Homo sapiens: one gene and its partners. The protein of the gene in region 1 purifies or fractionates together with the protein of each later gene. This does not show direct contact. Each region holds a gene or a part of one and is shown on either strand. Other genes may lie near its edges.

Region 1 (4,545 bases):
GCCACTCGGGACATGGAGACAAAGCCCCCCAGGTGAGGAGTGAGACCCGCTGCCCCCTTCAGTGGGCACTGCCAGAGGCAGTGCAGTGCAAGCCTGGCAGGAGCTGCCCGGGGATAACTTTGGTTCTTAATCTATCTGGGCCCAGATAGGAAAGAGGACGGAAACTTCTCCATTACGGTTTCTGTACCAGGGAAGGAAAAGAAGCTCTCTCACAAGGGGTTTGTGGGAACTCATTTCCAGAGTGACTCCTAAGTGAAGATCATTCTTCAGCAGCACATGTATAGACGCATTTTCTATTTTGCAAAGTGCTTTTCAACCACAGTGTGAGCTATTACCCACAACTGAGCCAAAACTCATCAAAGGTAGCCTTACACTTCAGGATGAAATGTCCTCAGCAAGAAAGGTAAAGAATTCTTGGCCGGGCGCGGTGGCTCACGCTTGTAATCCCAGCACTTTGGGAGGCTGAGGTGGGCAGATCATGAGGTCAGGCGTTCGAGACCAGCCTGGCCAACACAGTGAAACTCCGTCTCTACTAAAAATATAAAGATTAGCTGAGTGTGGTGGCGCATGCCTGTAATCCCAGCTCCTCGGGAGGCTGTGGCTGGAGAATCGCTTGAACCCGGGAGGCAGAGGCTGCAGTGAGCAGAGATCATGCCACTGCACTCCAGCCCGGGTAACAGAGTTAGACTGTGTCTCAAAAAAAAAAAAAAAAAAAAAAGAATTCATATATGTGTGTGTAACCAACTAAACACCCCATTTCTGAGATCAGAAGTCCTAAGGGCAGGAGCAGACACGCTGCCCTAGCCAAAGTCTTCACGTGCTTATAAAGCCAGTCGAGGGCTTTTTACCATTTCTTTTTTTTTTTTTTTTTAATTTCGAGAAACTGAGCAGATGCTTTAGAAATTCTCTTGTTACCATTGTGACTGATATTGCAATGTTTCTTTTCTTTTTAAAACAGAGCGGAGAGCCCAGAGCTTCGTAGAAACTACAAGTGGCAGCTCCGTGTGAGTGCCCACGCTAAGGCGGGCTGCCGAGCTGCCCTCCCGCTCCCGTCAGGCCACAGGCCCTCCATGGGTGGCCATGTGACAGTGCCTACTGCTCATTACAGCCAGGGCATTCATCTGAGGACTCTGGCGTTCGTGTCACATTCTTCTTGGTGCTTGTATACAGTCAGTGATTTGAAGGGGGCACCAGTTCAGAGGGAGAAGAACCGGGTCCCAAGAGGTGTTTTTGTTCTGTTCTGTTTATTTATGTATTTATTTGAGACAAAGTCTCGCTCTTTCACCCACGCTGGAGTGCAGTGGCACAATCTCGGCTCACTGCAGGCTCACTGCAACCTATGCCTCCCAGGCTCAAGTGATTCTCCTGCCTCAGCCTCCCAAGTAGCTGGGATTACAGGTGCACGCCATGACACCCAGCTAATTTTTGTATTATCAGTAGAGACAGGGTTTCACCTTGTTGGCCAGGCTGGTCTCAAACTCCTGACCTCAAGTGATCCGCCCACCTCAGCCTCCCAAAGTCCTGGGATTACAGGCATGAGCCACTGCGCCTGGCTTATTTTGTTTTTTAAATTGAGACAGGGTCTCCTTCTGTTGCCGAGGCTGGAGTGCAGTAGTGTGATCTCAGTTCACTGCAACCTCCACCTCCCGAGCCCAAGTGATCCTCCCACCACCCTCAGCCTCCCGAGTATAGCTGGGACTACAGGCTCACACCACCATGCCTAGCTTATTTATTTTATTTTATTTTATTTTATTTTATTTTATTTTATTGTTTGGTAGAGACACAGTTTCACCATGTTGGCCAGGCTAATATCAAACTTCTGGGCTCAAGCAATCTGCCTGCCCTGGCCTCCCAAAGTACTGGGATTAGAGGTGTGAGCCACGGCACCTGGGCCAACCCAGGATGTTTTGTTTCTCAATTTCTTTTTCTTTTTCTTTTTCTTTTTTGAGAAGGAGTCTTGCTCTGTCACCCAGGCTAGAGTGCAGTGGCATGATCTTGGCTTACTGCAAGCTCCGCCTCCCAGGTTCACCCCATTCTCCTGCCTCAGCCTCCCCAGTAGCTGGGACTGCAGGTGCCCGCCGCCATGCTGGGCTAATTTTTTGTATTTTTAGTAGAGTCGGGGTTTCACCGTGTTAGCCAGGATGGTCTCGATCTACTGACCTCGTGATCAAGTCAGGATCCTCAGCCTCAGCCTCCCAAAGTGCTGGGATTACAGGCGTGAGCCACCGCGCCCAGCCCTTGTTTCTCAATTTCTAACATGGAAATGTCCAGCTCCAGGAATACATGCTACACTTAAAAAATTATATTCTGCTACAACTGTCATTAGCTTTTGTATTACATCAAAAATGAAGAATCTGGAATACCATGGCTGACCATGTTTCATGTGCTAAGAGTGACCATGGCGAGTCTGAGTGCTCATTCAGGTTGTTTAAAAAAGAAAATCACCAGCCGGGCACGGTGGCTCAAGCCTGTAATCCTGGCACTTTGGGAGGCCGAGGTGGGCGGATCACCTGAGGTCAGGAGTTCGAGACCGGCCTGGCCAACAGTGAAACCCCATCTCTACTAAAAGTACAAAAATTAGCCAGGCATGCACCAGCACGCCTATAATCCCAGCTACTCAGGAAGCTGAGACAGGAGAATTGCTTGAACTCAGGAGGCGGAGCTTGCAGTGAGCCGAGATCATGCCACTGCACTCCGGCCTAGGTGACAGAGCGAGACTCCATCTCAAAAAAAAAAAAAAAAAAATCACCAATCAGGGGTGGAGGAGCTGGCAGCCTCGAAAGAAAAGAGGCTTCTCTACAGGGTCCCAAGATCTGGACTGGGCACCTACCCTGGCCTGCATTTTCTAGACTCTAGACTCATTTGCTTCACGTCCAAGTTGGGCCTTCACAAGGGAGTCAATGTTCACGTCATGCCTGCAGTTCTGTTGCAAGCAATGAACCTGGGATCCTGAAAGTTGACTTGAGAAGCCTGGGAAATCCTAGATTTCTATAGATGGCAGCACAACAGACAGAGCAAAAAGAACAGCTCCCATACATCTGATGACACTGAGGTTCTCACCGCCGCTCTTAAATGCTGTGGCAGAACAATGGTGTATAAAGCACTTCCATGTGCCGGGCATGGCTCTGAGTCCTCTACAAGGGAGACTGACTCTTCCGGACTTCACGACAACCTTGTGAAGTGGGGACTGTTATTCCCATTTTACAGACCAGAGCCTGTGATCACCAAGCTCCTGAGGGGCAGAGCCAGGGCTCAGCAAAGCAGCTGGCCCAGCGTCCATGCTCTTCGCCATTATGTTATTCTGTGTCTCAAAACTGCTCGCACGGCTTCCCCGTGCGGGCACTACTGTAAGTGCCTGACATGGGCTGGCAAGGGACAGACCTCACGACGCCCCTGCAAGTGGAGATCTGGGTGGTATATGCTGAGCACTGGAGAAAAGGTGGGCAGAGCCTGCCAAGCCCCACAGCAGGGCAGGGTCTGCCTGGATCCAGCTGTGAACCCCGACCTCTACCACAGCCTCTCACTGCCAACACACTCCAGGGCAGAGCACGGCAGTGCCTCCATGCAGGGGAACCAGTGAAAGGGTGCTGAATGCCACAGGGTGGCAGGGGCACAGCACCTGCAGCCGCTGGGGGTGACTCACCTTGTAGAGCTGGTGAAAGCCAAATGCAATGCCTGCCATGATGATGGCCAGGGCGCCGTAATCTCGCCATCGGGAGCCTGCGGGACCTACAGGCGGGAAGAGGAGGAGGGTTAGAAGACGCACATGGCGTCCTTCTTCGGGTGGGGGCTGGCACAGGTGCCTCAGTGGCACAGTCTCCTCGCCTCCAACAATGGGCAAGTGGAACACTCCAACGCAGGAAGGCAGCACATGATCATCACAACAGCAGCCGGCTCCACCCCTCCTGTTCCCACTGCCTCAACTGGGACACAAGGGATGCCAGTCACCCAACCCTGACTGCAGGCTGTGGGTGGAGGTATCTAGCAGTGAGCTGAGACCTGAGTTGGCAGTCAGGTGGCAGAGGTGATCTGAAGACCAACAGCATGGTCTCTACCTCAGGAACAAAAGATCCAGAGAGGATAACAGGAGTATGTTTAGGGGAGCATAAATATACCCATATATGCCCTACTATAGCTGGCGATAAGCTGGGGGCCACAGCAGAACCAAGCGGGGCCTCAGCGAAGTGGAGAGGGGGACCGTGGTACGCTGGGTGGGGGCACGGGGGTGGGCTGTGGTAAACTAGACCTCCCAGCCCTGCTCTCGCTTGGAGCCAGAGGAGAGAAAACACAAGTCTCCAAATGACTGAGCAAGGCTTCAGAGAATGAGAACGCCTATCAAAAGGGATGGGGGTGGCAGGGGAGAGGGGCTGGGGTCAGCAGGGCCTTGGAGGAGCCCTGAGGCCCTTGGGGGCTGGAGGGGAGCAAGCACAAAAGAGAGACGGTAGGTGGGTGTAGACCAGGTGAGCACCCTGGGCCTGACTAGAGAGGAGAGCTGCTCTGGCCCAGAGGACCCCAAGAGCAGGGTGCTGGGGAGAACGGAGAGGA
Region 2 (4,545 bases), about 220 Mb from region 1:
CTGGCATGAGCTGAGTTTTTGAGCTGTGAATGGCAGATGAGGGAGAGGAAAACTGTCCTAGATGTTGATGTAAAAAAAACTACTCCCTTGCATATTTGGGGTTAGAATTAGTTAGATTTGGGTGGAAGAAAGGAGACATGAGAAACAAAGTAAGGAAGTAGGCAGATATTTCCTAAAGAAATTTTATGTGTCGTGTTTACATATCCTTAGGGATAAAATCTTAACTTTATGGGAGATTTTAATCTTACATCTATGTGTGTGTGTGTGTATACACATATATATATAAATATATGTGTGTATATGTATTTTTTTTTTGACATGGTGTCTCACTCTGTCACCCAGGCTGGAGTGTAATGGCACAATCTTGGCTCACTGCAACCTCCACCTCCAGGGTTCAAGAGATTCTCCTGTCTCAGCATCCCAAGTAGCTGGGATTACAGTTGCCTGCCACCACACCCGGCTAATTTTTGTATTTTTAGTAGAGTCGGGGTTTCACCATGTCGGCCAGGCTGGTGTCGAACTCCCGGTCTCAAGTGATCCACCTGCCTTGGCCTTCCAAAGTACATTTATATTTTTGAAAGTCTGAGAAGACTATAGGTTTCTGGTGTGATTATCTGTATAGGTAACCTGTTTTGCCTAAGTAGAGACTGTAGGAAGAGAATCAGGTTGGGTAGGGAATCTGATGCATAAAAGTGGAGATCAGTTAGAATGCTATTGCAGTAATCCAGAGAAGTAATGAAGCAGTAACAGTGAGCCCAGGAAGAAGGGAAATTGATGAATTTATGTGATATTTAGGACAGTAAATCATCATCCTTTGGAACCATTTGAATGTGGTGGCTAAGGAAAATAGCATAGTCTGAAGTTCACTGTTGGGTTTCTATGATTTGGCAACTGGGCAGATGATGATGCCTTTCATTGATAAGAAATATGGGGAGAGGAGCAGGTTTGGTCAGGGTAATAGAATTCAGTTTGGGGTGTGTTCAGTTTGTGATGTAAGAGAGAAATATAATGATTTTTAACTTGTGGATTATCATGTTATGAGCCAGATACATTCCATAGTGTTTGGAAGAGATCCAAGTAGGGTTAGAAATATGGTGCCAGAGCAAGAGAGGGGGTCTGGCCTAAATGTATAGATTTTTCAGCATGTAGGTTGTATCTATAGCATTCGGTGAGCCTGAAATCATTCAGTGAGACCCTAGAATGAAAAGAAGACTGAGGATGGGTAACCACTGGTGTGCCATAATCCAGATGATGACTTCCTGTTAAAGTCCAAGTGAAAGATGCAGATGCCTTACTACAGTGTCCCACAAGACTGTACATGATCTCTTAACTGCTATTGCTCTGACTTTACTAATCTTCTTGTTCACTGGGCTTTAGCCACCCTGGCCTTCTGTTTCTCAGACAGTAAAATGCTCTTCCCTCGAATGCTCATAGTCCCTTCTGTGTGGCATGCTATGTTTTCTCAGAAGTTTTATTGCTGGCTCTTTGTATTATTGAGGTCCCAACTCAAATATCACTTCCTCAGAGAGGCCTTCCACAACCATTGAATCTAAAACAGCTATCCAATCACTATTCCTCATTTTCCTCATTAGTTGCCTAATTTTCTTTTTTTGTTGTTGTTAATTTTTGGCTTTTTAATTAATTATTTTTAGAGCCAGGATCTTGCTCTGTCACCTAGAGTGGAGTGCAGTGGCATAGTCATAGCTCACTGTGACCTCCAACTCTTGAGCTCAAGTGATCCTCCCTCCTCAGCCTCCCAGTAGCTAGGACTGTAGGCGCATACCACCACGCCTGACTGGTTTTTTTTTTTATTTTGTGTAGAGACAGGGCCTCACTATGTTGCCAACCTGGTCTCAAACTTCTGGTCTCAAACGATTGATCCTCTTGCCTTGGCCTCCCAGATCACTGGGATTACAGAGTGAGCCACCATGCCCTGACCGCAGCTTTATTTTCCTTATATTCTCTTTCCAGTGGTGTGCTACAGCAGTCTTCTATTGGCTTGCAAGAGCTGATTGTTAAATTTTCATGAAGTTTGTGAGCCCATTCTTAAAACACAGCCATTATTAAAAATTAAATAGCCGGGCGCTGTGGCTTACGCCTGTAATCCCAGCACTTTGGGAGGCCAAAGCAGGCGGATCACCTGAGGTCGGGAGCTCGCGACCAGCCTGACCAACATCGAGAAACCCCGTCTCTACTAAAAACACAAAATTAGCTGGGCATGGTGGCACATGCCTGTAATCCCAGCTACTCGGGAGGCTGAGGCAGGAGAATCGCTTGAACCCGGGAGGTGGAAGTTGCAGTGAGCCGAGATTGCGCCATTGCACTCCAGCCTGGGCAACAAGAGTGAAACTCTGTCTCAAAAAAAAAAATTAAATATTAAATTATGTAAATTTACGATTAAATCCTGTTTTTAAAAAAGGTAATAAATACTGATAACTTAACATTTTCTCATTATTGTACTATTACCTGTGCTCTTGAGATTATTTGTCTATCGTGCTGGAAGGTGGAGATCCTGTATCCTGTATAACTGTGTGCTACTGCTCATTTCTCCCCAGCTTTGCGTTTGCTGGGGTCAGATTGGAAGCTTTAAATCTGCCCTGGTGGGAGCGTATATCCCACAAAAATTGACAAATGCTATAACTCAGAGCTCTCCCATATCAAGCGTTAAATGGTTAAACATTGACCAACATACTACTGGTGGTATCACTAAATGAATTTACCTTGTTTATTTGTTGTCTGTCTTTCCATAAGGACACGTAGGCTCTCAGTGCAGTCCCTGCCTGCCTTGTTCATGCTGTATTCACAGCCTGTAAAACAGTGCCTGGTACACTGTGAGCTCTCAGTCACTATCTGTTGAATGAGTGGATCCTCCAGAGCAGTTAAAAGGGAGGTATAAGAAAGGCCTATTTCACTAGCAGTAGGGAGAGGCCTGCTCTACTAAGTAAGATGGGGGAGAGATAGTTCCCCTAAGGCTTACTTGGGTTCTTCTTTGTGTTATGTTCCTGAGTGAGTAGCCATGTAAATTTACTTACTTAATGATAGTAAAAACTTCTCAAGCATGGTATAGGGAAGGCCAATTAATGAGCAGGAACACTCAACCCTAGCTGCACATAGGAATCACTTGGAGTATTTTTAAAAAGAATTTGGACAGCTGAGCAGCACTCACAGACCAAATTAATCAGAAATCTCTACAGGTGGAACCTGGATATCAGTATTTATTTTGAAGTGCCCCCAGGTTATTTTAATGTGCAGCCTGAGTTTAAAACCACTGGATTCGGCCGGGCGCGTTGGCTCACGCCTGTAATCCCAGCACTTTGGGAGGCCTAGGCAGGTGGATCACGAGGTCAGGAGATCCAGACCATCCTGGCTAACACGGTGAAACCTCGTCTCTACTATAAATACAAAAAATTAGCCGGGCATGGTGGCGGGCGCCTGTAGTCCCAGCCGCTCGGCAGGCTGAGGCAGAATGGCGTGAACCCGGGAGGCGGAGCTTGCAGTGAGCTGAGATCGTGCCACTGCACTCCAGCCTGGGCAACAGAGAGAGACTCCATCTCAAAAAAAAAAACCACTGGATTCGACATCGGGTAAGGGCCAGAATGGGGAGATTTGAGCCTTATACTGTGAATACTGAGGAGCCATCATCGATAGGGTTCAAAAAGTGACTTCATTCTGTAATTTATTTTTTCATTCTACAGTGGCTTGAGTTCATACTAGAAACTGGGAGTACAGAAATGTATAGGACACCTTATCTACCAGATAAGAAGTTCACAGTCTTGTAAGGGAGGCACCAAATACGAGTTTAATGAAGTGTTTTAGAGACCATCTTGAAAATCCGATTATTGAGGGTTCAGTGAAGACTGAAAGGAAAGGATGACCTGTTCAATCTAGGTAAAGGGGAGAACCAGAATATGGGACACAGAAGAGGTAAACACAAGCTCTGGTTGATGGCTAAATATTTCCCAGGTGAACAGTGCGGAAGGAGCATTTGTAAATGCCCCTCTCAATAACTGGTACCACCATCCACCTTGTTCTTCATAAAAGAGACTGTCTCTCTCTTGATCACCACTATATCCTCAGCACATACCACAGTGTCAAGCACATAGGCATTCAGATATTTGAGAATGAATGCTATTCTGTAGAGGGAGCAACTTGAATCAGAGATCTGGGAACACGTAGTGTGTTTAGGGAACTGCAGGTCTTGGCATAGCTGGACTATTGGATTAAGAGGAATGGTCATGAGGCAGGAGGTGGGGGGTCATGAAGAGCCTGGGGTCATATGCTAAGACAGGTGGACTTGATGTAAGTCCACCTTGCAAGTAACAGAACCACGGAAGGATTGTAGATGATCGTATTTGGCAAGCTTTTTCAAAGTATACATGCCTGCTAGTTTCCCTTAGGGGTTCTTATCCTGAAGACTCCCTCGCTCCCATACATGTCTGTGTTTATATATGTACAGTTGACCTTTGAACAACGTGGGAGTTGGGGGCACCAACCCTCTGCACAGTCGAAAATTCACAATAACTCTTGACTCTCCAAAAGTTTCAT
Region 3 (3,572 bases), on another chromosome or scaffold:
AGAAGTATCTCATTGACATGCTTTGGAAGAGAACAGGTATCAAATAAATGTTTGTAGAACTGAACCAAGTAACAGTTTGGATCAATGAACAAATGATACAAGGACCAAGCAAGAATTTTCATAAAAATGCAAAGTCATAAGGGGTGCAGCAAACCAATGTGGCACATGTATACCTATGTAACAAACCTGCATGTTGTGCACATGTACCCTAGAACTTGAAGTATCAAAAAAAAAAAATGCAGTCATGGCCGGGCGTGATGGGTCACGCCTGTAATCCCAGCACTTTGTGAGGCCGAGGTGGGTGGATCACCTGAAGTCAGGAATTCTAGACCAACCTGGCCAACATGGTGAAACCTCGTCTCTACTAAAAATACAAAAATTAGCCAGGCATGGTAGCAGGCACCTGTAATCCTAGCTACTCGGGAAGCTGAGGCAGGAGAATCGACTGAACTCAGGAGGAGAAGGTTGCAGTGAGCCGAGGTCACGCCACTGCATTCCAGCCTGGACAACAGAACAAGACTCTGTCTCAAAAAAAAAGCAAAGTCATGAGGTGGGCACAGTGGTGTGCATGCACTGGTAATCCCAGCTACTCAGGAAACTAAGGCAGGAGGATCACTTGAGCCCAGGAGTTCAAGGCCAGCTTGGGCAACTTAGCAAGGCCCTTTCTCTTAATAGAAAGAAAAAGCTAAAACACATCAAAAGTATACTGCTTTGGTTCAAATTCAGATAATACATCAAATTTGCCTTGTTTTAAAATAATTAATAACTTGACTAATATAAGTGAGTGACACAGGCTAAATAATATTGATTTAATTATTTCTGATTAGCATTCATTTTTGTTTAGAGATTCTGCATATTTAATATGACAGCCTATTCTGCATTCATGAGCTCAACTGGGTAATATATCATTGCTGAAATTCTACAGCCTCTTTGTTATAGAAATATTTTCATTACTTTTACCATTTTGCCTTATTATTAGCTGTTTCCTATCTGCCATAGTCAACTGTTTTCAATTAAGTGCTGTAAATCTAGAACAGCAAACAAAAAGCCAGCCAATACTTTGTGCCTGCCCTCAGCTTACTAAAGTTGCTATTTTATTTCCAAGAAGAAAAATCTTTCTTGATCTCAACCCACCAAAAACAAACAAATCTTGCAATTACTTGAAACACTGTATACCTTGCATTTTACCATCTGTAGAGAAATTGCTTCTGCCTTGCAGAGTATATCTTCCACATCAATTTTCATGGACAATTCATTGATATGCTAAAAAGTATCAACAAAATAAAATGATATCGAAACTGAATACACTATTATATTCTATTATATAAACAATTTATTACCAGTTATATTTCACTGCAGATAAAATCCTTAAAATAAAAACATTCATATACTACAAATACGTAAGAAATTCAATATATCTTTCTTTAGATTATTTCAAGTTTTAAAGCTAAAGACTAGCTAATAAGCTTATGGAACATTAAATCCAGCAGCTATTCCAAGTCTGATATCTCAAAGTTATAATCAAAAGACAATTAATTTTTGAAAAACTAAACTACATAAAAGAGCACTTGTTGAATTTCCTTTTCTTCCTAATTAGCCAGGTAAAAATAACTGGCCAATATGTATTTGAACTGTCATTCTCAGATAGTCATTCCTAGCACTGTTATTGACACAATTTAAGTTACTCAAGAGATTTAATAATGTTCCAAGGAAACGTTCTGTATATCAGGACCACCAAATAGAAAAGCCAGAACACTAAAATCTGAATTAAAGGAATAACTACCTTAAGTATTTCATTGAAGCCATAATGCTTTTCCATTATTTGCTGCTTTTCTGATTCCAGAATAGCACAACAGAGAAGAAGATGGAAATTTGTACATGGTAGTTCGGTCCACATTACCTATAGAAGGCAGAAGAACTATTTTGCAAATTGTATCAATTCTAAAACATTTTCCTCACAGATACAATTCTGAACACTGAATGACTTCTATGCAAAGTAGATGTTGCCTGTTTAGGGTAGCCCAAGGTTTTTCTAGCTAGGAAATGAGGGGAAGGAGAGTCTTACCTTCAGCTACAAAGTAACTATCATCGAGTTTATATGAATATGATATATTCTAAATGTGGCTCTTTAAGGTAACTATAGTAAGTAAATTACTGAGCCTAACCAGTATGATAAATGTTATTAATGCAGGAGCTACAGACACAAGGTTAAGGTGTAAGGGTTAGATGTATTTTCAATATTTTTCTGAAGTATCAGTTTCTCACTTCGATCTGAGAAAAGACTAAAGCTAAGTCCTGGAAATAAAAAAAGGTTCAGTTACACAGTACATGGAATCAGAAACACCCAGAGGTAGCTCTACATTCTAAATACGTAAAACCCTTGTATCACATTTTATCCCTGATTGTGACAATAACTGAATTAACTGCCCCAAATTTATAACCAAACATAGAAAACGCTTGATCAACAGCTCAGCTGTTCCTAAATACAGATAATATCCTCGAATTTAGGGTCTTAATTTCCCCCTGCTTCATGTACCTAATAATATATTTTCCACAAAGATAAAAACACCCACACAAACCATACCATGAGATCATACCCGAAATGTGTTTACTTCTTTCAAAAGGAGTAAATCAAGTTGAATAATTTTCAAACTAAACCCAATTGTTGAAAGTTTAATTACAATGCAATTAACCTCAAAGGTTTCATTAAAAGTTTGAATTTATTTAGTAAACACAGATTGAGGAGTTATTCTAGCTATGTGGTAATAATATTCTTAATTCATCCTTTAAAACCCATTTATGCCTGAGGATGCAATTTTTTGAATTTTTCAATCAGACCTTGGTGATGACCTTGAGCAGTAGGATATAAACAACTCCCACATGCTTAGCGTTCCAATAATGGAACACTAGGCATAAATACATTAACCCATTTTTAACCCCCAAATTAAGACACTAATTTAACAAAACTGATAAACATTTAAGTACGATTCCAGATAGAGACCATGTGGGTTTTACTTCTAATCTGAGAACAGAGGAAGTGAGCATAAAGTAATCCACTTTTAACTTGTAATCAGCACAATGCCTTGTCTAATGGTAGCACAGCCATCAATAGTATAGGAATCCATTTCCAGCTGTAAAAACCTCAGAGACCACTAGAGTTCCACTGTATAAAGTTGGATTTACAATCAAAATGGATTATCTCCCAATTCTTTCCTTGGAAGAATTTCTGTTATCCTAAGGTATGATCAATCATTATACCAGCATTCTATGAACAAGCACACTGGGCTGGACACAGTGGCATACACCTGTAGACCTGTAGTCCCAGCTACTTATAAAGCTGAGGCAAGAGGATTACTTGAGTCCAGGAGTTCGAGATCAGTCTAGGTAACATAGCAAGACCCCTTCTCTTTAAAAAAAAAAAAAAAAAAAGCACACTGATTTATTATTAGCAAATACTTTAGAAAATGTGAAATGATTTGGTTTTTCATTAAAGGTTGCCATGGAAAAATAAACACTGGGGATTACACATGGGGGGATGGTGTAAGGGAAACATGGGATGTAAAATTACCTAT
Region 4 (4,487 bases), on another chromosome or scaffold:
AACTTTATAAAAACAGGTGGCAGGCTGGATTTGGCCCATGAGAAGTGTAGTTTACACAAAAGTTGAGCAAACCAATTTTTTTCTGATTGTTTTTCCTCTTCTCAGTGTAAGAAGAAGCTTGGGAAGCTGCCACCTCAGTATGCCCTGGAGCTCCTGACGGTCTATGCTTGGGAGCGAGGGAGCATGAAAACACATTTCAACACAGCCCAGGGATTTCGGACGGTCTTGGAATTAGTCATAAACTACCAGCAACTCTGCATCTACTGGACAAAGTATTATGACTTTAAAAACCCCATTATTGAAAAGTACCTGAGAAGGCAGCTCACGAAACCCAGGTATGCTATCCCCACATGGCTTAGCTCCCCTATGTAAATGAACACCTGGATACAGGTACAGTGCCTTGGAAATGGAGGAGGTGGGAGGGCTCCCCACTTAGTGAGAATCTCCTGTTGCCCATCATTGTACTGGGCATTTTACTACTGCCATCTGTTTTAAACACCTACCTCCAACCCTGTGAGGCAGGCACTATGCCAATTATTTTACAGGTGAGTAAACTGAGGTTCTGAGAGGTAAGGAGCTTGTCCAACCCTTAACAGAAAATGAGTAAAATAGCTGCAGTTTGAACTGAAATAAGAACAGCAGCAACAACAATGATAGTAATTGCTCCCAGGTATTGAAAGCTTGTTGTAAGACTAACACATGCTAATATAATAGTAAAAATTATTAGCAATATTACTGATATGTATGTTATGTTCTAGTCGCTGTGCTGAGCATTTCATATAACTGGGCTTTTTCTATCCTCACAGCATAGCCTTTGAGATAGGTATGTGGAACTATTCCCATTTTACAGATAAGAATCCTGAGGCTTAGAGAGTTCAAGTGACCTACCCAAGGGCACATCACTGATAAAGGGCAGAGGTGGGATTCAAACCCACATCTGTCAGGTGCAAGTGCAAGGCTCCTTCTCCTCATGCTCACTGCCTGCTGGGGAATAGGGCACTGGGGACATACCCCAGGGAGCCCTTCCTCATGTTCTGAGTCCCAGTTCATCCCATGCTGCTATTTTGCTCTCCCAGGAGCATCTGGACTCCCTAGACAGAGCCCCAGCTTCTCACCTGTCCCTCTCTAAATGCTGCTCTGCAGGCCTGTGATCCTGGACCCGGCGGACCCTACAGGAAACTTGGGTGGTGGAGACCCAAAGGGTTGGAGGCAGCTGGCACAAGAGGCTGAGGCCTGGCTGAATTACCCATGCTTTAAGAATTGGGATGGGTCCCCAGTGAGCTCCTGGATTCTGCTGGTGAGACCTCCTGCTTCCTCCCTGCCATTCATCCCTGCCCCTCTCCATGAAGCTTGAGACATATAGCTGGAGACCATTCTTTCCAAAGAACTTACCTCTTGCCAAAGGCCATTTATATTCATATAGTGACAGGCTGTGCTCCATATTTTACAGTCATTTTGGTCACAATCGAGGGTTTCTGGAATTTTCACATCCCTTGTCCAGAATTCATTCCCCTAAGAGTAATAATAAATAATCTCTAACACCATTTATTGACTGTCTGCTTCGGGCTCAGGTTCTGTCCTAAGCCCTTTAATATGCACTCTCTCATTAAATAGTCACAACAATCCCATGAGGCATTTTTAAAAATTTTTTATTATTTTAGATTCAGAGGGCACATGTGCCATTTGTTACACAGCTATATTGTGTAATGGTGGGGTTTGGGCCTCTATTGATCCTGTCGCCCAAATAGTGAACAGAGTACCCAAAAAGAATTTTTTCAACCTTTGCCTTTCTCCCTTCCTCCTCCCTGTTGGAGTCCCTAGTGTCTATTGTTCCCATCTTTAGCAGATGTTAAGTATTTGATTTTCTGTTTCTGGGTTAATTCACTTCGGATAATGGCCTCCAGCTGCAACCATGATTTCATTCTTTCTTATGGCTGCATAATACTCCATGGTGTAGATATACCACACTTTCTTTATCCAGTTCACACTGATGGGCACTTAAGTTGATTCCATGACTTTGCTATTGTGAATCGTACTGCGATAAACATACGAGTGCCGGTGTCTTTTGATAGAATGATTTCTTTACCTTTGGGTAGATACCGAGTAGTGGGATTGCTGGGTTGAATGGACATTCTACTTTTAGTTATTTGAAAAGTCCCATGAGGCATGTTTTCTATCATTCCCATCTTACAGATGAGACAAAGGCTCAGAGAGGTGAGGTCACTTGCTCAAGGACATCAGCTAACAAGTGGTGGAAATGGAATTCAAGCTCAGTGGACTCTAAAGCCAGTGCTCATGTCACTGTGCTAAACAGCCTGCCTTGTCACATCCCCACCTCTCATCTGACCAATGGGAGACTCTGAGCAGCTGAGTGACTTGGGTTGTCACACAGCTAAACAGGGGCAAAGGACCCAGTCTTGGATCTTTCCACCTCCAAGCAGGAATCTGTCTGATTCCAGGGGATTGATGATGTTGCAGATGGCTAGGAAGCAGACTCCAGGATGGAATTTAGTATGCAGGATGTTCTGGGGGAGAGCCACTGGAACCAGCACTCAGGGAAAGGGGGGAAGAAAGGATAGGAAGGAAGCATGAAAGAGAATAGGGAGAAGTGAACAGGGATGCAGAGCGAATGCCAGTTTCAGCCAACTCCAAGGACAGCCCTGGAGCTGGAATGGCCTTTAGAGCTGCCCCATGGTGACAGAGGTGGCCAGGCTTCTATACCCCTACGTGGATCACTCACTGTGCTTGGGCACCTTGGGAAAGGGCATGGCTTTGAGCAAAAGGCTCTCTGCAGCTGAGGCAACCCCTAAAAGGGCTGACGGCTGAAGTCTGTCTGCTGACCACTGTCCCAGCAGCTGGGGCTTGTTAGTCCTTCCTCAAAGGGGGATCCAGATGGCATGTCACAGTGTCTACCGTAAATGCTCACTGAATCCAGCTGCAATGCAGGAAGACTCCCTGATGTGATCATGTGTCTCACCCTTTCAGGCTGAAAGCAACAGTGCAGACGATGAGACCGACGATCCCAGGAGGTATCAGAAATATGGTTACATTGGAACACATGAGTACCCTCATTTCTCTCATAGACCCAGCACACTCCAGGCAGCATCCACCCCACAGGCAGAAGAGGACTGGACCTGCACCATCCTCTGAATGCCAGTGCATCTTGGGGGAAAGGGCTCCAGTGTTATCTGGACCAGTTCCTTCATTTTCAGGTGGGACTCTTGATCCAGAGAGGACAAAGCTCCTCAGTGAGCTGGTGTATAATCCAGGACAGAACCCAGGTCTCCTGACTCCTGGCCTTCTATGCCCTCTATCCTATCATAGATAACATTCTCCACAGCCTCACTTCATTCCACCTATTCTCTGAAAATATTCCCTGAGAGAGAACAGAGAGATTTAGATAAGAGAATGAAATTCCAGCCTTGACTTTCTTCTGTGCACCTGATGGGAGGGTAATGTCTAATGTATTATCAATAACAATAAAAATAAAGCAAATACCATTTATTGGGTGTTTATTAACTTCAAGGCACAGAGCCAAGAAGTACAGATGCATATCTAGGGGTATTGTGTGTGTATATACATTGATTCAACAAGAAATATTTATTGAGCACTTACTATGTGCCAAGCATAGCTCTGGGCACTGGGAATATAGCAATGCACAAAAGCAGACAGAAATCCCTGTCCTCATGACCCTGCAGAGCCAAGACTTCCAGAATTTTTTAAATAAAAAAATCCCTGTCCTCATGGAGTTGACATTTGTGCAAAACATCTTAATGTTAGATGGTTTTCCTATTACTAATAATTCTGAAATAAGCATCCTTGATTTATCCTTTCTCCATATCTCTGAGAAAAATTATAGAACCTCCCTGTGTGACACAGCAGCCACTAGCCACATGTATCAAATGCTTAAAATGTAGCTAGTCTAAATCTACATGTGCTGTGAGTGCAAGGTATATACTTGGTTTCAAAGACTTAGTACAAATGAAAAGAATGCCAAGTTCTTGCCAACTGATAATTTTTTTAATTGTGTGCTGAAATGACAATTTTTAAATATATTTGAGTTAAATCAAATGAACTTCATCTCTTTCTTTTCCCTTTTTAATTGTGGCTACTAGAAAATGTGAAATCATACATGTGGCTTGTGTTATATTATGTATTTCTATTGGACAGCTCTGTCCTCCAAGGTAAATCACTGGATTAAAGATTCGACTATACTGACTTACATTGCCACATTGTCACACTGTCCTTGGGACCAAGAATCAACATATCATTCATAAGACTCTAAAATATAAAACTCTCATAAATACTCACAAAAGAACCTAGCATGCTCTGATCACCTGAGTTGCTGGTCACTTTTGGTGGCTGGTAAGCAGCCTTTGGTCCGTCCAGATTATATTCTTCCATTTAGTCCCCCCACATCCCTGTGAGATGGGTTTTGTTGTTATTCTCATAATATTAAGTGGAATAACTTGAGGTTCTAAGAGGTT
Region 5 (4,545 bases), on another chromosome or scaffold:
TAAAGGAAGTTTCCTAAAATGCCACTTGCCTGGAACCAGTATTATACTGCATTTCTTTTCAGAATATCAGCCTTCTAACAATTTCTGTGATTCTTGGTGAACTCCAGTGTACTTTTAGGGGTTGTGTTAAAGGAATTCTCCAACTCTTGTCCCTTTGTCTCTTGGTCTCCCTTCCTCACCTTCCTAGGGATTTCACTCCTTGCCTGTGGTATTCATATATTTAATTGCAGTGTGTTGCCATAGCAAACTTCAGCAAAAAAATGTTTTGCGAGCTTTGATATAGAAAGGTCTGCATGAAAGCTACTCTGTCAACTGGTAGCTGTATATGCAGTGGCTCTGGTCTCATCATCGTTAGTGCACCCTCAGAATCTACCTTCCAAAGGTTTTATTCTTTTTTTTGAGACGGAGTTTCGCTCTTTTGCCCAGGCTGGAGTGAAGTGGTGTGATCTCGGCTCACTGCAACCTCTCTCCCCAGGTTCAAGCGATTCTCCTGTCTCAGTCTCAGCTGGGATTATAGGCGCCCATCACCATGCCCGGCTAATTTTTGTATTTTTAGTAGAGACGGGATTTCGACATGTTGGCCAGGCTGGTCTCGAACTCCTGACCTCAGGTGATCCACCCGCCTTGGCCTCCCAAAGTGCTAGGGTTACAGGTGTGAGCCACCGCTACTGGCCAGGTTTTTATTCTTATATATAAGATTAAGAGGAGAAATAACCAACCAGTTCGTAAATTTTGCTTAGGTAAATTACACTAATAATGAAAGATCTATTTTTTTGCTGCCTCAAAGCCCTGAAAACTGTATTTCAGTATGAAAAGTCTGGCTAGTTTTATATTTCCTGAATTTCATATTTTATAATTTTATATTTCAGTATGAAAAATCTGGATGGACTTGGGTTATAACTTTTTCCTGAATGTTTTTCCCTGAATATCTGTAAATTACAAGGGAGCCATAATATTCTGGACTTTGTTTCTCATTGAAGTAGGGAGGATTTGGATTAGTTGATTTTTACTGATAGTGAAGAATTTTACTCTCAATTTGTAAAAAGCAAAACATGCATGTAAGTATATACCTAGAAATGCTACTTTTTAATTACAGTTTTCATGGGAATAACGTGATTTTTTAAATTGGAATTATATTCCCATTTCAATAAACCATATAACATTTTTTACCTTATGGTAATATTGTGTACTTATAGATGTGAAGTCTTTGTAGCTATTTTAGCTTCCTACTTCTTAGCACTCAGTGCTTTTAAAAAATTCCTTATGATTTCTCTATGTGTAGATAATTCCTGGAAGCATTTACATGAAGCTGTTCATTGTGGTTGTCTTTGGGGTCTTGAATGGTAAAGAGATTTCATTTTTATACCCTTTTCTACAGTTGAAAACAAAATTTTTTTTTTACCACATGCATCTCTTTTAAATCTTGGTAAAATATTTTAGGGAGGCATATTCTAAAGTTATTTGAGTATTTGATGGTTTTGTTTGCATTTTAGCCATGACGAAGATGAAATTCGGCCTGTTCAACAGCAGGACCTGCATCGGGCAATTGAAAAGATGAAGAAATCAAAGGATGCAGCATTTCAGAATGTTTTAACACATGTTTGTTTAGATTAAGAGTAAAGATCATTTGTACAGTTCAGTGATCTAGTTTGGTGTGTCCTCTTATCAGTTAGTGGAAATAGAACGGAAAGAGTGCTCTTTAAACAATGAGGGAGCTCAGTGTTTATGGTTTTATACTCTGAATTCTAAGTTATTGAGATATAGTTGTTACATAGGTGGTATTACTGTTGGTCAAAAATCATGAGGAGGAACAGTTGAATCCAGCCTGAACGTGGGTGCTTGTGTTTGACCTTTTCAGCCATATATTGTACAGCCTTATAGAATCTAAGCTGGTCTTAAAGTCATAAATGATTCATTGGGTCATTAGTGAGAAACGGGGATGTGGTTAGGTGCTGGTTCCTAGACATGTGAGTATGCGTTTGTGTGTGTGCGTGTATGTATGTGTATATTAAATGTATATATCCACACATTTTATATTGACATTCTGTAGATATGTTTGAATATAGAAACTTTTTTTACCCCAACTACTGAATCCAGGAGTACCAAATAATATATAGTAAAACTAAGATTTAAGGTTGTGTCAAAAAGGTACAGTGATTCAGCCATTTCCATTTGTCATTTGTTTCAACCTTTTTTAAGTTGAGTGTTTTTATTTCTGCAGTTATTAGTTGGATCCTCCACATCTTGCATATATACATGGGCTCAATTATTATGTTTGTCAGGATAATCAAATGAAAATACTAGTTCAGTGATCAGCATTGAATGGTTGTTAGGCAGCCATGTGCTCAACACTGATTTCACCTCTTGAGTATAAACTTTTTAAATTTAAATTGGTTTACATGAAAGTGGATTAAAAGGCCTTTCAAAAGAATGGGTTTGAAAAACCTCAGTACCCTTTAATACATGTACATTTCTTTCCTTTTTTCATTTAATGTAACATGTCTGTTGTAACTATGTTTCTTAAATATTATTTTAAGGTTATGTGTTCTTTAATTATGGTCAAATATAATTTGGTCACCAAAAATGAAATAATAGTTTAAAACAAGTAGCTGTTACTAAGTGTGCTAAAAATACTCATTTTATAATTAATTTTAGTTTTCTTAGTATATTATTATAAATTGTGCCCTAAGTCAGGTACAAATGTACACATCAAAATGCCCATATTGTATCTATCTGTAGTCGTTTAATGTGAATTATATGTGAATTTTTTTCAAAATTTTACTAACCAGAATTCTGTTATAGGCACCTAACCACGCAGCATGAGGAAAACGGCACAACACAATCTTGAGGTGCCTTCTGAATCATCAGATTAAATTATGCTTCATATGTTTTTGCTTTTACTGTATTTCTTTAAAAACTCTAAATCTTTATTCATGTGTCACTGGATTAATTTATCTGATAATGTGTCTCACAAGAATCTGTTAGATCGTTTATTCTTCAGTTGTACTTTGAATGGTGGGGTGGAAGTTTCAGGTGAACAATGGATAACAAAAAGCAAGTTATGGAAGATTGTGAAGAGGATGGAAAAACTGAATACAAGATACCAAAAATGAAAAAAAGTGTCCCATTTTTAATAACTATATTCTATTATTTTATAAATGTGTAATAAAGGGGTCCCTCTTTATTGGTTGTTCTCCACTTAATCTTTGGTCTTTTTCAGTAATTTTAAGTTTTCTGGGATTTTTTTTGGTTTATAAAACTTGTGTTTAGACTTTATCTTGCTATGGAGTTTTCACACTTCTATAGCACATATCCTAGTATCTAGTCATTTCTGTTTTAATATGAATTTCAGTAATTTAATTTTAATCTGGTGACATATTAATCGAAAATAAGGAGTAATGTATACCTCCACATGTCCTTTCTTTTTGTCTTCTCTTAAATTCACAATATCCAGTAGGAGTGGTTATTCAATTTCTTCGTGGTTTTAATCATCAAATGAAGTTAGAGAAGTATACTAATCCCAGCAACTATGACTCATCTAGGCATGTTAAGACCATAAAGTAATTCAGGAAACTATTTTCCTGATTTTTAAATAACTTTTAGTGTTATGTAACATCTATCCTTCTGTTTTAGACATGCATTTCACATATAGTTGAATTCTAGATTCTAAGATAATTCATTTTGGGTAATACTTCAGAGTACTGGATCTAGAATCAGGCTTCCTGAATTTAAACTCAGGCTCCCCATTAACTGTGTGTCTGTGAGCCCAGTTTCTCATCTGTAAAATGGGGCAACAGTGGCACTCATCTTAAAGGGTTGGATAATAAAATAATGCATGTAAGGCCCTCAGCATAGTGCCTGGCACAGAATTACTGCTCAAATGTTAGCTGTCGTATTAATATTGTCACTTTTGCACACTGATGTACATTTCCTGTTGACCAGGCTCATTCTTTAAGCATTCTCCATGCTTAAACCAGTTCCATAATCCCTAGGCCTGTACTCCAGGGATTGAGACTGAAAGGATCATTTATGCCATGTTTCTCTAAAAGCATCATTGCTGGAAGACTTTTGATAAGTCTGATGTGTCTCAAGCTATTCTCAGGCCTTTTTTGTAGAGTTTAGAAATGAAGTATTTGAATCAATTTAGTATCTCCTTTACTATGTTTCTCCTTTTAATCTCAGCCAACCCCCTACCTGCAGGTAAACCCAGCATTCATTAAGAGCTGGGTTGGGGTACTCTATTCTGTATGCATCATAATAGCTTAACATTATTTAGTAGCTGTAACTTACAGGTTTAATGCTAGATGAGGATGTCTCAAGCCGTGAGTGTGCTTGTGTAAAAATGGTGGCAACATCATCTCGTTGGTAGGAATTTTTTACTTGAATTGTTATTTTGGGAAAATGTTAACAGATTTCTTCTGGATAAAGAAAATAAATTGGATGATGTATATTTTATGTTTCTTTTTAGCTTCTCTTAAAATCAGAATATTGAACAGAATTCTGATATGCTGAATATATATAGTGCATGGCTGAAACTCCAGCACC
Region 6 (4,545 bases), on another chromosome or scaffold:
CCTGCAATTCTGGTGATGAATAGTATGTAAATAATTTCTATGGATACAAACTTGAAGGGCTGAGAAATGATTAAATGTCTAAATATAATGTATTCTTGCCATTTTGTTAAATTCTAAGCATGCTGTCTTATCTTTTCAGCATATTTGCTATATTTTTCTTCAGTGATTATAGATATTCTTTTTCTATTAGTTTTAGGACTCCTTCTCTCCCTGCCTCCTTTTCTCACTTTCTCCCTCCCTTCCTCCTTTCCTTTCTATTCTTAAGATATAAGAAACATTTTAAACCAGTGTTTTAAAATGATTTGCTTGATTTGGTAACAATAAAGTAATTTACTGAAGTGCATTTTGTTCATTAATTATCTCTTTCCATGCTTTTCAATGTATGTAATTTGAAGTAAAGTGAACAAATTACTTGAAAGATCTTTTTTCCTCCAAAATATGATGAGATGTAGTCAAGAGAATGATCTTCTTGATTGTTAAAAATCAAAGTTTTAATAAACGCTATGTTAAACTTTAGAAACTTATCCTATACATTTGTAGCAATAACAATTTTTATGAAAGAATAGCCATTGGAATAATTTGAAATGAAGGACTGGGAATTAGAATTTGAATTCCTTTAATGACTATTTTGATAAAAGCCTATTTAGACATTTAGTTCATGCTGTGTACACTTCCTCTTGAAATAAGACCTGGAATTACTACTTAAAAAACACTATTATGATTTGTTCCTAGCCAATTTTATTCTATATTAGCAGAACAAATGTACTTTGAGTACCATTACCTCATGTGGCTATTGTGCTATGCCTTTTACTATTTATAAGGATTCAGCATGGACTGAATTCTGTTTATAAGAGTGCATCCCCTGATCCCCACTTCCCCCCCAAAAAATGCCCAAAATACCAAGGCCCAGTCTCTATCAGTGTATTTACATTAGAATTTTGGGGGATGGGACCTCATAGGGTTTCTTTGTTTGTTTGTTTTAAAGGGCTCCAGCTGATTATAAAGCCAGGTTTAGTAACAGTTGTATTAAATCAGAAAGCCTTTATGTTTGTTCATCTTGACATTTACTTTAGCAGCCTTTTATTTTATCTGGATTATTATATTCTTTTTCATATGAGGCAAAAATAATAAATTTTAAACTTTGTACTGTTTCACAGTGAAATTACACTTCCATTGTAATCAGAATAAATCTTTTTTTTTTCTTCTCCTCCTAAGGTCCAAGAAACTGGAGACATTGTCATTTCAAATGCATATGTGGATCTTGCACCAACATCTGGTACTTCAGCTAAGACACCCTCTGAGGTAGGTTATAAAAATTAGTATCCAAGCCACTTCCTCATTTAGGAATTTCAGTTAAGGTGACTTTAAGAGTGGTTAGGCTACGTTAGAAAATTAACAACCATGAAACTATTCTTAATTCTTGAAGTGAAAAACATTAATTCAAAACAGCTTGGAATAGAAGGAATACTCTGGCAATTTATGAACTTTAAAAAACTCGTTTTGCAGGATACTAGGATATCTTTCAAGAGAACATAATTTTCTAGTTTTAGAATAAATAAATCAGTTGTTTAATCAGAATCTTAAGCAAACAGCGTTTTGGAGAAAAATAGATTAAAAAGTTGAATATCCTGTACCTTTTTCTTGATTTAAAGGTTTATATAAAGTTTTGTATGCAAATATATAAACCAGCAGCGTGTATAATTTATTAAAACATTGTATTATTTATTAGCATGCTGAGACTTTTGATAAAAATGTTTATATTCTATCTCTGAAATATTAACTTTGTAATGTTGAGGTTTCGATACCCATGATCTTTAATTGTCTGTCATAAACCATATAACTGACTGAAAATTAAAATCCCTTAAGAATAGTCTAAGAAAAAAAAAAACTTAGAGCGGGCTCGGTGCCTCACGCCTGTAATCCCAGCCCTTTGGGAGGCTGAAGTGGTTAGGTCACTTGAGGTCAGGAGTTCAAGACCAGCCTGGCCAACATGGTGAGACTCCATCTCTACTAAAAATACAAAAATTAGCCAGCCTTGGTGGCAGGCTCCTGTAATCCCAGCTACTCAAGAAGCTGAAGCAGGAGAATCACGGGAACCCGGGAGGTGGAGGTTGCAGTGAGCCAAGATTGCACTACTGCATTCTAGCCTGGGCGACAAGTCTGTCTCAAAAAAAAAAAAAAAAAACAAAAAACAAAAAAAACCCAAAACTTAAGTTTTAGAGCTGTAAAGAAATTCAGACTTCATGTAATTTAGTATTATTTTATAAATAAAAAAAATGAGACCATAGAAGTTGATTAATTTGATCAGGATCTTTCTAAAGTTAGCTAAAACATAGGTTGTCCAGTTCCTATTTTTCTTTTAAAATATTATTTCTGAATTCTAATAAAAGTAAAATCCTGTTATTAAGAGGACTGAGGTTCTGAGTGATGTATACAAATAAGAAAGTATGAAAGACACATTGTATGAAGAAAACTGACTTATGTACAGAGTTTTAAAAAATCTTTTTTTTGCACATGTTTTATAATCACTTTTCTCCATGAGTTATTTTTACAGAACTTTTAAAGTTTATTTTGTTGTCGTTGTTAGGGCGGGAAGCTTCAGAGTACCTTTGTATTTGAGGAAATAGGACGCCGCCTAAAGGATATTGGGCCTGAGGTGGTGAAGAAAGTAAATGCTGTATTTGAGTGGCATATAACCAAAGGCGGAAATATTGGGGCTAAGTGGAGTAAGTTATAGCCCTGATTTTATAATATTCTAAGGTAATTCTTAGTAAATAAAGTATCTTTTTAACAATTAAAGACCTTTGAAGGTAGGTAAATCTTACCTTTTTAGGTAAGTTTTTTTTCTTTTCCCGTGGGAATGAATAGGTTTGGGAATGTCCAAAGGGGGGTGTGTGTGTGTGTGTGTGTGTGTGTGTTTGTGTGTGTGTGTAAGAGATGTAGGGAATCAATTGAAATGAAAATAACCTGTTTTAAGATTTCATTGTAATCCTTGAAAGTAGTTTAAACAGTCATCTTGGCTATATGCATCTTTATCTAATCTTCAGCTTCTTAAACATAAGGCAAATTCATCAAGTCAAAATGAAGTATTTTTAAGTCATGATATTTGACAGTTACAAAATTATTTTATTCATACCAAAACAATAATTTGGATTATCTTAATTATCAATATAAAATCACTATTTTCTAGATATATACAGATTATGGTCAAAGGTGTTTGTTTATCTAATCTAGGGAAATTATCTATTAGAGTGCCATGCACCCAATATAAAACATCTTGCCGCAGAAAGAAAGCAGTCATATTTCTTTTCACTGATGTGGAGGTCCAAAGAGACCCTGGTACCATTTTGTGAAGAAAGAGAAATTAGAGGATAAAAAGAATAAAGAAAAAATATTCTGTCAGATCTTTTGCATCTGCTGTGTAACTCACATCCTTAATCATGGCACACACTTTAATTATGGAATATTCTAACCTCACCTTTATTTTCCTAGAGATTCTTCAATTAGGTTGAAAAGATGAAAATGGATAGGAGGTAGAGCAGTAAGTCCCTGAATTCCCTTTCAGCAGAGTCTGTTGCTTGTCACAGTTATCTTACTGTATTATGGTCATTTATAATTGTATGTTTTCTCTCATTTGACTTTGGGCTTAATCCTGAGAAATGGCTGCAGTTTGTCTATTTCTAGCTTCTAGTATAGTCAATAACACATAATAACTAGCCTGATTCTGTATATGTTGGAATGAGTGCTAAAAGCCATGTAGAAAGCATAGTTTTAGAAAATAGTATGGCTGCCTTTTAAAAAAAAGGTTCTGAAATTGATGCTTTACCTTCTATTAAAATAATGTTTATTGTATGGATAGTGATGTTTATTTTTTGTTTAGTATGAGTGAAATATGTAAGTATAATATGATACTGAGATATTTCATAAATAACTAACATATTTTATAGTATTTATTACTATTAATTTCTAAACCCAGCCAGAAGTTGTTGTAGTAAACCCTTTGAATCCTATTTTATTGTTCTAAGCAACGGTAAAAAATCGGAGGAAATGAAAGATGACATAAAGGCATAAGGGAGATAAAGAATCAGAGGATTTATGTGGCCTACAGAATAGTCTGCTCTTGAAAATTAAAACATAGGTACTCTTATCTGAAACTCCAGAAACCAAAAAGCTCTAAAAATAAACAGTTTTTTTTCTCATGATTCACTGGTGGTGAAGTGTGACTTGAACTTATATGATGCTGTTGATTGTCTTTAACTCAGCTAGTGTGAGTTAGACAAGTATAGAAGTAATATGCACGTTTATAGATTGTTGCACCATTGGGGGCCTTTTGTAATATGGAATACATGTTTTATGTATTATATTTCCTTTCTAAAATCTGATTCCAAATTCCAAAACACATCAGCCTGAAGCAGTTCATTCAGATAAGGACTTGTGGACCTGTACATGTATATAAATAATTCTTGTAGAACACAAGTGATAAGAGACATGGAAAAAAGTGCTCTCTGCTTTCAGAGAATGGGAGGATTGGTTCATTCAATGAAC
Region 7 (4,545 bases), on another chromosome or scaffold:
CGTTGCCCAGGCTTGTCTTAGACTACTGGGCTCAAGTGATCTGCCTGGCTTAGCCTCCAAAAGTGCTGGGATTACAGGCATTAGCCACCACACCTGGCCCCTAGAATAGTTTTTACGTCAATTTATTAACTCTATTTGTCAAATGCTTGGGATCACAGGAATGAAAGGCATTATGCAAAACAGATATCTATACATAGAAAAATGGTGTTTGCAATATAAATTATCGTTATTTTATCATAAGAGCCACATTTAAGCCAAATACACGTAAATGAAAACCGAGAAATCCAGTTTCTGTGCAAAAAAAAAAAAAAAGAGAGCACTGCAAACAAATGTTCATCTGCCCCCAACTTCTTAATCCTTAGCACAAAACCAATTTAAAGAAGTAATTTATTTTTCTTTTTTGATGTAACACTTTTTAAATGGAAATAACATCTTACCTGGGCCCCAAACTACTTACAAAATGGTTTCCAGGTATTTTGCATATGTTTACATGAATCATCTCACTAAGATCCTGAGAGTGATGTGAATTCTGGCCTCACTGTCTGTGCAGCCCAGGGCTCCATGCACTGGAATTACTTCCCCATCATGGGAGTGTGTGCCAGAGCCCTTCTTTTCTGGCAGCCCTTGTAAGTTTAAAAGAAAAACGGGAGCTGAATGGGTTTGATAAGGACATTGAGATAATGGAGTAAATTAGAATTCGGAGATAAGATGAAAGCTATTATGTAATTATTGAAAGTATAATTAAGTAAACAGTATTGTTTTCTAACTTACTTTAAATGTCACTAAATGTATCCATTTAATAATTTAGCTAATTAGGGTCTTCAGTTATTTTGTGTAACAGATAAATACAGGAAGAGAAAAGAAGGTGCTTGTGGTGATACCCTTTGGTTAGTGATTCCTCTGTAGAAATAGCAAAAGACATATGTGATTGCCAAGAAGGAAATTATCCAGGGCCAGTCAATATCAACTGGACCAATGAGTCACAAGTGACCAGGAGACACCTTATATTGTGTTTAGAGAGAAAGCAATAATTCCATGAGACTTCCTTTGAGTACTGGTATAAAAACCAAGCTTCACTTGTTCCTTTGTTAAGGATTCTGTATACAGTAAGATTAGCTGTTCATACCATTCATTTATACACATAATGGATTGTGAAATGTTAATCCTTAGCTATATGCAGGTGACCAGTATGTCCTGGGTTTTTTAAATCAGTAGTGCATAATCAGAACTGGCTACATCCTTAGCAGGGCTCAGAGCAAAATAAAAATGCAGTGCCCTGTTTTTAAAATTATTAAGGATTTTAGGATGATGACAGAAGAGAATAAAACCCTGGGCATGGGACCCTGTGCGGCTGCACAGATTGCATACCCACGGAGCCAGCCCTGCATTTGATAGCTGTCAGATGTAAAGGCAGACTTCTATTTATATATGCAGCTTTCAGTCAATTGCATGAATGTGTAAATTGTCAAAGAGAAATGTGATGGCCAGGTCCTTACTGTGAGTAAAGGACCAGGAACAGGACCAAAGTTTGAAAGGACTAAAGAAAGCCCCTTCTAACATTACAGCTCTATGTCTCTTGGTTATCTTCAGCCCATTTTCCCTTCAGTTCCTAAAGAAAACCATAGGATAGAATTATATCCTATAATTATAGGCCATATAGGTAACAGGAGGATATGACTTATGTGATATATATTCTTCTTGTAAAAATAATGTCAGGTATTTATCGGGGACTGCAGGGTGGGCCTTCTTCCTCTCCTAGATGAAGAACTGAGGTTCAGACAGCTAATTATGGAAGATAATTAGCTGGGATAATTATGGAAGATAATGCAGCTGGGATCCAAGTTCTTCATCACTCTAGTCCACTGCCTGTCTCATAGGATTCCAGTTGATCCTGCAAGACAAGAGTAGCTTACAAAGGGTTTGCATATACCTTAATCTCATATCTCATTCCCAGTAGCACCCTTGTGAAATTGGCAGTGTTATCCCCAATTTACACACAGGGAAACAGAACTTCAGAGAAGTTATGTCATGTTGCAAGGTCTTAAGATAGCAAATGGCAGAGCTAAAACTAAAGTCTGCTTTTCAAGTCATGAGTCCAGCCATGTTTTCTCTGCTCCCTACTTTGGGGACCCAGCTACTTCCCCTACATATGCCATTCCTTTTCAATCTAACTCTATTGGTTTAATTCTTTTCCACTAGACTTTGTTTAACAGATGTTGCATTTCCCAGAGGAAAAGTGAATCTCCTCTACACTCTAAATAGCTAAAAGTATTATTGATGAAAGGACTTCAATTCCCTATAGAATTTTAGTTCTAGAAGCATATCTGAATAATGTAGGGGTTTTCTTAAGTGCAGTGAGAGGTAATTGAGGAAGTGGAGGAGGAAGCTGCCAAGAGTCAGAGTTCTCTCAAAGATGACTCCAACTTCTACAATTGACCTTGCTAGAAACAAGAAAATGAGACTTAGATATTGGGCCAGGACAGCTCAGGAATTATATCTTCCATTGGGAAAGGCTTCCTGTACCTATGTTACTATGAAATGTTACAGCTTAGTTTCATGCATATGGCTGGTGTGATCCAGTTACTTATTTTAAAAAGAGAGTTGATTTCCTTTGTTTATATGCTGGCAGTGAAAAACAGAATGACAGTTCGACTTAAGAATGAGGGCTTGTTCTCAGTACAGAAACAGAAGTAGCCTAGTTCAAGAAGTGCGGACCACCGCTTTGTACAATGGTCTCCAAACTTTGGTCACTTCATCAGGAAATAGTATGAGCACTTCTCTCCATACATAGTTATTTGTAAAGTATACATGCTTCTGCTATTGTACTCTAAAACGTGCTGTATTATATACCAAAAAAGTCCAAAAAATGAGAAAAAATAAATAGAAATAGGAGTTCTAATATTCTTTTTGCTTCCCCAGTGAATGTCTTGCTCACTTCACTTTAAAAAAACACTGCTTTCTGTGTTTTTGTTTTTGTTTTTGTTTTTGTTTTTGTTTTTCGGGTTTTTTGAGACAGAGTCTTTCTCTGTCGCTGAGGCTGGAGTACAGCAGTGCAATCTCGGCTCGCTGCAATCTCTGCCTACTCTGTTCAAGTGATTTTCCTGCCTCAGCCTCCTGAGTAGCTGGGATTACAAGTGTGCACCACCACGCCCAGCTAATTTTTGTATTTTTAGTAGAGATGGGGTTTCGCCATGTTGGCCAGGCTGGTCTCACTCTCCTGACCTCAAGTGATCCACCTGCCTCAGCCTCTCAAACTGCTGGTATTACAGGAATGAGCCACCACACCCAGCCAGAAAACACTGCTTTCTAAAGAATATGCATCTAGCCAGAACTTTGTGTTTTAACATTTTCGATTAAAAATTGAAATTATATATCTGACATTAACTTAATGATCATCATTTACTTTCATACAGCCCTTATCAATTCCAAAAAGCTATTTTCTTTCATCTAAGTCACAATCACTTGGGAATTTATTAAAATGCAAATTGATGGGCCCCACCAGAGAGCTACATAACAAGAAATTCCTGTGGGAGGAGCCCAGGCAGCCTTTATTTTAACTAGCCTATGTTTTTAACCAGATGATTCTGATGTACACTTAAGTTTTAGAACCCCCATCTATGGCCTGGTGCCATGGCATGCGCCTGTAGTCCTGGCTACTCGGGAGGCTGAGGTGGGAAGATAGCTTAAGCCAGGAGTTTGAGACCAACCTGGGCAACATAGTTAGACCCCACCCAGGTGATTAGGTCAATTGAATCTGACTTTTGTCAACAAATTCTTCTAATATGTTTTTTAAATGCACAAAATGTCAAAGTTGAGATTTAATGATGCTTTTTACAATTTCAGGATTTACTTCAGATGCAATATGAAGGAGTAGCTGTAATGAAAATGTTTGATAAGGTTAAAGTGAATGTAAACCTTCTCATATACCTGCTGAACAAGAAGTTCTATGGAAAGTGAAGTGCCTACAGAAATTTCTTGGATTCTGTATCATCTGGATTAGGAAATGAATTTGTTTAATATTTTTGTTTTTAAACATGATTGAAATCACTGCTTATAAATGTGTGATTTTTTTAAAACGACCAAAACTGTTCTGAAGAATGTACCCAGGTGCCTTTTTGCTAATTTGATACTATAATAGAATGAGACATAAAATGAATTAATGGAAACATATCCACACTGTACTGTGATATAGGTACTCTGATTTAAAACTTTGGACATCCTGTGATCTGTTTTAAAGTTGGGGGGTGGGAAATTTAGCTGACTAGGGACAAACATGTAAACCTATTTTCCTATGAAAAAAATTTTAAATGTCCCACTTGAATAACGTAATTCTTCATAGTTTTTTTAATCTATGGATAAATGGAAACCTAATTATTTGTAATGAATTATTTAGACAGTTCTAAGCCCTGTCTTCTGGGAGTTATCAATTTTAAAGAGAACTTTTGTGCAATTCAAATGAAGTTTTTATAAGTAATTGAAAATGACAACACAATAACACTTTCTGTATAAAAGTATATATTTTATGTGATTTATTCCTACTAAATG

Evidence for each region.
Region 2: the proteins of PEX14 (region 1) and GNPAT purify together in Homo sapiens (co-purification; one study listed by BioGRID and IntAct). This does not show direct contact.
Region 3: the proteins of PEX14 (region 1) and TBC1D15 purify together in Homo sapiens (co-immunoprecipitation; one large-scale study listed by IntAct). This does not show direct contact.
Region 4: the proteins of PEX14 (region 1) and OAS1 purify together in Homo sapiens (co-immunoprecipitation; one large-scale study listed by IntAct). This does not show direct contact.
Region 5: the proteins of PEX14 (region 1) and ATAD1 purify together in Homo sapiens (co-purification; one study listed by BioGRID and IntAct). This does not show direct contact.
Region 6: the proteins of PEX14 (region 1) and HSD17B4 purify together in Homo sapiens (co-purification; one study listed by BioGRID and IntAct). This does not show direct contact.
Region 7: the proteins of PEX14 (region 1) and IQGAP2 purify together in Homo sapiens (co-purification; one study listed by BioGRID and IntAct). This does not show direct contact.

The regions. Positions count from the first base shown.
Region 1 is NC_000001.11:10,617,516-10,622,060, reverse strand, and holds part of PEX14 (peroxisomal membrane protein PEX14), read right to left. Parts: intron 3,730-4,545; coding exon 3,644-3,729; intron 1-3,643. UniProt on the Homo sapiens protein: Component of the PEX13-PEX14 docking complex, a translocon channel that specifically mediates the import of peroxisomal cargo proteins bound to PEX5 receptor.
Region 2 is NC_000001.11:231,243,612-231,248,156, forward strand, and holds part of GNPAT (dihydroxyacetone phosphate acyltransferase), read left to right. Parts: intron 1-4,545. UniProt on the Homo sapiens protein: Dihydroxyacetonephosphate acyltransferase catalyzing the first step in the biosynthesis of plasmalogens, a subset of phospholipids that differ from other glycerolipids by having an alkyl chain attached through a vinyl ether linkage at the sn-1 position of the glycerol backbone, and which unique physical properties have an impact on various aspects of cell signaling and membrane biology.
Region 3 is NC_000012.12:71,919,059-71,922,630, reverse strand, and holds part of TBC1D15 (TBC1 domain family member 15), read right to left. Parts: intron 1,919-3,572; exon of another isoform or gene 1,901-1,918; coding exon 1,784-1,900; intron 1,264-1,783; coding exon 1,177-1,263; intron 1-1,176. UniProt on the Homo sapiens protein: Acts as a GTPase activating protein for RAB7A. Does not act on RAB4, RAB5 or RAB6.
Region 4 is NC_000012.12:112,916,404-112,920,890, forward strand, and holds the end of OAS1 (2'-5'-oligoadenylate synthase 1), read left to right. Parts: intron 1-105; coding exon 106-335; intron 336-1,143; coding exon 1,144-1,297; coding exon of another isoform or gene 1,298-1,354; exon of another isoform or gene 1,355-2,193; coding exon of another isoform or gene 2,194-2,310; exon of another isoform or gene 2,311-2,985; coding exon 2,986-3,150; coding exon of another isoform or gene 3,151-3,290; 3' UTR 3,291-3,500; downstream 3,501-4,487.
Region 5 is NC_000010.11:87,751,756-87,756,300, reverse strand, and holds part of ATAD1 (outer mitochondrial transmembrane helix translocase), read left to right. Parts: intron 1-1,493; coding exon 1,494-1,614; 3' UTR 1,615-4,545. UniProt on the Homo sapiens protein: Outer mitochondrial translocase required to remove mislocalized tail-anchored transmembrane proteins on mitochondria.
Region 6 is NC_000005.10:119,528,679-119,533,223, forward strand, and holds part of HSD17B4 (peroxisomal multifunctional enzyme type 2), read left to right. Parts: intron 1-1,215; coding exon 1,216-1,302; intron 1,303-2,587; coding exon 2,588-2,726; intron 2,727-4,545. UniProt on the Homo sapiens protein: Bifunctional enzyme acting on the peroxisomal fatty acid beta-oxidation pathway.
Region 7 is NC_000005.10:76,703,357-76,707,901, forward strand, and holds part of IQGAP2 (ras GTPase-activating-like protein IQGAP2), read left to right. Parts: intron 1-3,843; coding exon 3,844-3,957; 3' UTR 3,958-4,545. UniProt on the Homo sapiens protein: Binds to activated CDC42 and RAC1 but does not seem to stimulate their GTPase activity. Associates with calmodulin.